Linked DNA regions of Homo sapiens. The protein of the gene in region 1 purifies or fractionates together with the protein of each later gene. This does not show direct contact. Each region holds a gene or a part of one and is shown on either strand. Other genes may lie near its edges. The genes, in order: PFAS and SEPHS1.

Region 1 (3,911 bases):
ACGCACTTCGGGTCTCAGACGCTTTTACTTATTATGGTTGCCCTTTTCCCCTACAGCTCCGTCAAGGGTCTTCTCCAGGAACCCACAGCCCCATAGTTCCCCCATTAACCTGCTCCTGGTTTCCCACCAGGATTAAACCCTAGAGAGTGAACGGAGACCAGTTTAAGGCTCACAGCGGGCGCCGCGTGAATGAGGGAATAAACATTCGCAGAACCAGTAAGAGGTAGGAGCGGACCGACTCACAACCCCCTCACCCATGGGCCGGACGCGGCCAGCGAGCCCAGAGAGACAAGGCAGAGGAAATAGGAAGAGAAAGAGTATCTGTGACAAACAAGAAAAAAGGAACAAGAGACGTAATAGCAGCACTCACGGAGGAAGGGACCTGGGCCCGGCCAGCCGCCATGATGCGCCGGAGCTCCGCCCCCGGGAGGGGCAGGTGCTCGCTTGGGGGTGGGGATGGGGGTGGGGGGGCGCTCGGTGACGTCACCGGTGAGCGGGTTTCCTCGCCACCTCCAGCTCCTTCTCGCTGCTCACCCCCTCGCTTCCTAGAGACTCCGCGAGGCGCCTCGGTGCACCATCCCAACTCCCGACACCCCTGTCTCTTTTCTCTGATTTTTTTTTTTTTAAGACGAAGCCTGGTTCTGTCGCCCAGGCTGGAGTGCAGTGGCGCGATCTCGGCTCACTGCAACCCCCGCCTCCCAGGTTCAAGGGATTTTCCGGCCTCAGCCTCCTGAGTAGCTAGGATTACAGGCACCTGCCACCACCACGCCCGGCTAATTTTTTTTTTTTTTTTTTTTTTTGTATTTTTAGTAGAGACGGGGTTTCACCATGTGGCCAGGCTGGTCTCAAACTCCTGACCTCAGGTGATCCACCCGCCTCAGCCTCCCAAAGTGCTGGGATTACAGGCGTGAAACACAGCCCCTGGCCCTCTCTGATTTTTTTGAGACGAGGTCTCGCTCTATCGCCCAGGCTGGAGTGCAGCGGCGCCATCTCGGTTCACTGCAGCCTCGACCTCCCGGGCTCAAGCGATCCTCCCACCTCAGCCCACCAAGTAGCTGGGATCGCAGGCTTGCACCGCCACACCCGGCTAATTTTTGTATTTTTCTGTAGCGACATGGTTTCGCCATGTTGCCCAGACTGGTCTCGAACTCCTGGGCTCAAGCGATCTGCCCGCCTCGGGCTCCCAAAGTGCTCGGATTACAGGCGGGAGCCACCGCGCCCAGCCTCCGTCTCCCTCCTAAGTGACATCCTGTCCGGCATCCCGCAGGCCTTCAGATGGATGGGGTAGCAGAGCTCAGGAACTCAAACACAGCCCGCCTGGTGGATGACTTCTAAGCATCTTTCAGTCTCCCTGATCTTGCCAAGCAGAGAAGGGCTTCCTCGTAATGCCACCAAAGCACAACTTTCACATGCTTGCTTTATGGCCTTAACTAACTGATGTCATTACTTAACTGTCCCCGCGGGGACGGGGAACTGAATGTATTTTCACAAACGTCAGTTCAAGACAGATTTGTGGGAGAAACCACCTGGGGATAAACCTCTCCCCACCAAGAACCTAGAATTCGGCCGGGTGGCTGGGGAAAAGTGGGCGGGGCGTAGTCGCCCCGGCGCTGGCAGGTCCAGTCTCTGCCCGCGGCGCACGCGGATGACGTAACAAACGCGCGCGACGATTCGAGGTGCTCTGTGGCCGCGAGTGCATCTTCCACGTGAGTATAGTTACCGCGTGCGGACCTGGATCCTCCTCCAGGTGCAGCGTTTCGTCATCTAGCCCAAGCTTGGTCTGGCGGCTTCAGTATCCCCACCGGGCCGAGCTGTGTCTACTTGGTGCCCGCGTATTTGCTTTAGTGGAGGCGTCCATTCGTCCTATCTTGCGTGCGTTCCGCAGACCCCAGGCATGGCCGACCCCCATGTAAATTTAGCCCCATTGTCCCATTCATGGATTCAGCTAACAGAAAGACTGCCGGCCGCCTACTTTATATCAGGCACCATGCTGGTCATGGAATACAGCCCTCATGCACGCAAACCCTGTCTCTGAGCTCTTGAAGCTTATATTTTACTGGGAATGATAGACGGAAATCAAGTGGCTTAATAAACAAAATGCCTTCAGGAAGACTGTCCTGAAAGTTGGGGAGGGGCTGAAGAGTGGTGAGAATCAAGAGTTCATTAAGTCATTCCACAAGTTTTAGAATTTTTTTGCGTTTCAAGCCCTGGTATTGTTCTAAGCCTTGGTAATTCAATGGAAACGAAGCAGCAACATCCCATGCCCACGTAGAGATTTTTTTTCTAGTGGGGAATATAGAGCGAAAAATAAAAACATCCAATAGTGATAAGCGCTTTACAGGAAATTAAAATAGGGCCGGCCATCTGATAGTAACTACTTGAGTGGCTAGTGAAGCCTTTTCCACGAAGGCGAATCACCAGAAATCTAAATAACAAGAGCTAGCCATGCATATGTCAGGGTGAAAAAAATGCCTTCCAGGACTGAGCTTGGCAAGTTAGAGAAATAAAAAAGAAGCTAATGTGTGGTTGGTGCATTGTGGGTGAAAAAGAGAATGGTGTGAGATAGGGTTGGAAAGGTAGGCCAGAGAGTGGCCAGACTTGGTAAACCAGGATGCTGAGTTGGAATTTATACCATGTGTAATGGGAAGCCATAATCCACTTTATGCTGATGTGTGACAAATGAATTGTGGTTATGCAGTGGTCAGGAGGTTAATGCATTGGTCCAGGTGAGTGATGGTGGTGGCTTACTTGAACTAGAGTGAGGTAGTAGAGATGAAGAGATGAGAGATTTGAGACATGATTGGAAATAGATTTCCTGGTGGATTGGATTTAGAGAGTCTGAGGGAAAGAGAATTAAGGATGACTTCTGTGTTTTTGTCTTGAGCAACAAATTGGATGATGGTAGTGTTTACTGAGTGGCAAGACTAGGGGAACAGCAGAGTTTGGTGAGTAAAGCCAGGGTCCCGCTGAGAGGCAGTGGGACCAGAAATTGGATAGGTAGTTTGGGATAGATGGGGAGGGCCTTTGAATGTTAGGCTAAAAGTATTAACTGTAATAGTTCTGTTGCCTGATGCACACTGGAGGTCAATACACCAAGACACCAGGTTGCAGCAGAGAAAGAGGTTTAATCATAGGGCTGCTGAACAAGGAGACAGGAGGAAACCTCAAATCCATCTCCCAGAGTACTTTGGGGCTAGGGTTTTTAAAAAAGAGTTTGGAATAGGATTAGGATGAAGTGTGAAAATCATTGATTGAAGAGTGCAGGGTGAGGTCATGAAACAGGGAGATGAAGAAACTGATTCTCATGCTCACTTGGTTCCACTGTGGGAGTCTTTTTTTTTTTTTATTTTTTTTAATTTGAAAGATGAGGTCTGCCTGGCGCAGTCGCTCACGCCTATAATCCCAGCACTTTGGGAGGCTGAGGTGGGTGGATCACGAGTTCAAGAGATTGAGACCATCCTGGCGAACATGGTGAAACCCCATCTCTACTAAAAATACAAAAATTAGCTGGTCATGGTGGTGTGCACCTGTAGTCTCAGCTACTCGGGAGACCGAGGCAGGAGAATCGCGTGAACCCGCAAGGCAGAGGTTGCAGTGAGCCGAGATCGTGCCACTGTACTCCAGCCTGGCAACAGAGTGAGACCCCATCTCAAAAAAAGAAAAAGAAAGACGGGGTCTTGCTCTGTCACCCAGGCTGGAGTGCAGTGGCACAATCGTAGCTCACTGCAGCCTCAAACTCATGGGCTCAAGCGATCCTCTTACCTCAGCCTCTTGAGTAGCTGGGACCACAGGTACATGCCACCATGCCCCACTAATTTTTAATTTTTTTTTTTATAAAGACAGGGTCTTACCATGTTGCCCAGGGCTGGTCTCAAACTCCTGGGCTCAAGCAGTCCACTGCTTTGGCCTCC
Region 2 (3,911 bases), on another chromosome or scaffold:
TGCAGACAAATGTTCATAGCAGCATTATTCATAATTGCCAGAACTTGGAAGCAGCCATTCATTTCTTCAGTAGGTGAGTGGATGAATGGATAAACAAAATGTAGTGTATCTGTATGATGGAATATAATTGAGCAGTAAAAAGAAATGAGCTATCAAGCCATGAAAAGATGTGGAGGAATCTTAAGTGCATATTACTAAGTGAAAGAAGCCAGTCTGAAAAAGCTCCATACAGAAGGATTCCAACTGCATGACATTCTGCAAAACTGTAGAGATGCAGAAAGGATCAGTGGTGGCCAGAGGTTATCGGAGAGGAAGGGGATCAGGTAGAGCAGAGCACTGAGGATTTGTTACTTCCCACTTAATTTCTTTCTAAACGCAAAACTGCTCCAAAAAATAAAGTCTGTAAATTTTTTTAAAATTAAATAATAGGTCGGGTGAATGGATAATTAAATAATAGTAGGTGAGTGGATGAATGGATAAACAAAATGTAGTGTATCTGTAGTATGGAATATTATTGAGCAGTGGCTCACACTTGTGATCCCAGCGCTTTGGGAGGCTGAGGCAGGACGATTGCCTGAGCCCAAGTGCAGTGAGTTATGATCATGCCACTGCACTCCAGCCTGGTCAATAGAGCAAGACTCTGTCTCTTAAAAAAAAAAAAAAGAAAGAAATTTAAAAATAAACTTGCACGCAATTCACCTTTCGCGGGAGTACCTTGATACTGAGCAAGGCCTTCTTAAAAAGTGCTGGTCTTGGCCGGGTGTGGTGGCTCACATCTGTAATCCCAGCACTTTGGGAGGCCAGGGCGGGCGGATCATGAGGTCAGGAGTTCAAGATCAGCCTGGCCAATATGGTGAAACCCTGTCTCTGCTAAAAATACAGAAATTAGCTGGGCGTGGTGGTGCGCACCTGTAGTCCCAGCTATTCAGGAGGCTGAGGCAGGAGAATCACTTGAGCCCTGGAGGCAGAGGTTGCAGTGAGCCGAGATCGTACGACTGCACCCCAGCCTGGATGACAGAGCGAGACTCCATCTCAAAAAAGGAAAAAAGTGCCGGTCTTTGGTTTTAGGATGGTCTTGGCCGGTTTACCTTCCACTGAGATCATAATCCCTCTGCATAGTTTTTTTAGTTTACTGGAAAACTACTATTAATTGAAGCTTCTGATAGTTTTCAGGTGGCTCAAAGTGAAATAAGAACTTTTGGAATTTCACTATGTCTTTGGTTGATTTTACATTGCGTTTTCATTATTCCGATACGTCATCTCCCTGACAAGTAAGGAAGTTGCAGATTAATTGTGGACGTAAGATTTTTGAGTTGAGGAAAGGTGTTTTTTCTCAGAGCCGCCCCCTCTCTCTCCCAGCTGCAGGACTCATGCACACGTTCAATGCCCACGCCGCCACTGACATCACGGGCTTCGGGATTTTGGGCCATGCGCAGAACCTGGCCAAGCAGCAGAGGAACGAGGTGTCGTTTGTAATTCACAACCTCCCGGTGCTGGCCAAGATGGCTGCGGTGAGCAAGGCCTGCGGAAACATGTTCGGCCTCATGCACGGGACCTGCCCGGAGACTTCAGGTACAGGATGCTGGGCGCATCTGAGGACTAAATAGTGAGGCTAACAGAAAGCTCAGCGAGAAAGCAGCAGCCCCACCCCGAGTGGGCCCCCACTCTGTTCGAGTTCCATGCTGCTGACCTCGGCCTCCGCAGCAGCTGGTGCCTTTCCTCCTCCCGGTGGGTCTGGTCCCCGCCATCCTGGGTGGATCCAGCAGCCTTGCTGAGGTTGAGTGGCCTGTGCTCTTTTTGATGCAAGGATATGGTGATGGGGGAAATAAGGTAGCATTCAGTTTTTACTGAAAGCTTCGCATTTGAAATTAACTGTAATACCCCTAGGTTACTTTGAACAGGTGATATTTTTTTCCTTGAAAATTGTCTAACGTTGTTTTAAGAATGATAGAGAGAAAAGGGGCCAGGTGTGGTGGCTCTTGCCTGTAATACTGGCACCTCAGGAGGCTGAGGCAGGCACATCACGTGAGATCAGGAGTTGAAGACCAGCCTGGCCAACATGGTGAAACCCCATCTTCACTAAAAATACAAAAAAAAAGTAGCTGGGCGTGGTGGTCCATGCCTTTAATCCCAGCTGCTTGGGAGGCTGAGCCAGGAGAATCACTTGAACCTGGGAGACAGAGGTTGCAGTGAGCCGAGATTGCGCCACTGCACTCCAGCCTGGGTGACAGAGCGAGATTCTGCCTTAAAAAAAAAAAAAAAAGAAAAGAGAATGATACAGAATAAAAAAGAATGCAATAGGATATTATGTCTTTAAAATGCCATTTTTCTTTTTTCTTAGATGTGCAGTAATTTATTAGAGGAAACATAAATGGAGGATAAACGGGAGATGGAGCAAGCGTAGGTAGAGAGAGCCATCAGACAGCAGTGCAGGTCTGACACCATACGCCCCAGTAGTTTGACTCCTAGGGAGCTTTTATATCCCTTATCATTTTTCTAAGATTAAGCTCCTTTTGTTTCCTGATTAATTTGGTGGCCACATCTGTCCGGAACTTGTGGGACGTCCTCCTCTTCATCATGGCAGGTACTCCAGCATGGCCTGCCGGCCGCCGAGGCCGCCACCCACAGCCTACAGGCTCGCCATCGCTCATTCCCACTCCCGCAGCCCCAGCTGGAGCCAGATGGCGCGTCCTCCTGAAGTACCATTTCTCTTTTGCCCCCTTTGTTCCCTTTACCTTTACTGTTTTCATCTTTTAAGTCTCCCTGTTTTTCCCTTTTTTTCGGTTTCTCTCTTTTTCTATTTCCTTTCCTCTAGAACTCTAGTTTTCTACCCGCAAAAGAGTGGAATCACCTTAGGATTTTAAATATACACATGCCGGCCAGGCCTGGTGGCTCACGCCTGTAATTCCAGCACTTTGGGAGGTCGAGGTCAGGAGTTCGAGACCAGCCTGACCAACATGGTGAAACCCTGTCTCTACTAAAAATACAAAAATTAGCGGGGCGTCGTGGCGTGTGCCCTGTAATCCCAGCTACTCCAGAGGCTGAGGCAGGAGAATCGCTTGAACCCAGGAGGCACAGGTTGCAGTGAGCCAAGATCGCCCCACTGCACTACAGCCTGGGCGACAGAGTGAGACTCTGTCTCAAAAAAAAAAAGAAAAATACACATGCCTAGCCCCAGCCTCCCAAAAACGGTGGGATCCATCTCGGGTGGGCCTGGGCCTCAGCATCTGTGAAGGCTGCCTGGGAGATTCCGTAGTAGGCCGGGGCAAGGGACCACAGTGCTGGGACCACAAAGCCCTGGTCACGTCGACCTGTGCTGTGGCGAGGGGGCTTCAGGACTCTGCCAGGCCTCTCACCGCCTTTATAGAGGACGCTTCAGCCTCCCGTTTAAAAAAACAAACCATTTTCTAGAAGTAAGCTCCAACAGGGCAGGGTTTTTTTCCCCTGCTGGTTCAGGCTCTGGCCAGGACAGTGTCTGCCACATAATTGGGCACTGAATGGAAATTGAATGAATTGACGAATGTTACCAGCCATTTAAATTTGTTTCCTTTCTTCAGAAATAGGAAGTTTTTAATTTTATGATGGAGTTTTCCTCTTGTCACCCAGGCTGGAGTGCAATGGCGCGATCTCAGCTCACTGCAACCTCCCCCTCCCCGGTTCAAGCGATTCTCTTGCCTCAGCCCGAGTAGCTGGGATTACAGGGCTGTGCCATCATGCCCAGCTAATTTAGAGACGAGGTTTTACCATGTTGGCCAGGCTGGTCTTGAACTACCTCCTGACCTCAGGTGATCCACCCGCCTCGGCCTCCCAAAGTGCTGGGATTACACGTGTGACCCACCATGCCCAGCCACAAGGTTTTTACATTTTGTAGAAGTAGACTACAGTTTTTCCTCATCATCTTATTTCTACTT

The links.
Region 2: the proteins of PFAS (region 1) and SEPHS1 fractionate together in Homo sapiens (co-fractionation; 2 studies listed by BioGRID). This does not show direct contact.

The regions. Positions count from the first base shown.
Region 1 is NC_000017.11:8,247,634-8,251,544, forward strand, and holds the start of PFAS (phosphoribosylformylglycinamidine synthase), read left to right. Parts: upstream 1-1,655; 5' UTR 1,656-1,706; intron 1,707-3,911. Other genes in the region: CST complex subunit CTC1, read right to left, coding at 371-403. UniProt on the Homo sapiens protein: Phosphoribosylformylglycinamidine synthase involved in the purines biosynthetic pathway. Catalyzes the ATP-dependent conversion of formylglycinamide ribonucleotide (FGAR) and glutamine to yield formylglycinamidine ribonucleotide (FGAM) and glutamate.
Region 2 is NC_000010.11:13,320,496-13,324,406, reverse strand, and holds part of SEPHS1 (selenide, water dikinase 1), read left to right. Parts: intron 1-1,359; coding exon 1,360-1,572; intron 1,573-3,911. UniProt on the Homo sapiens protein: Synthesizes selenophosphate from selenide and ATP.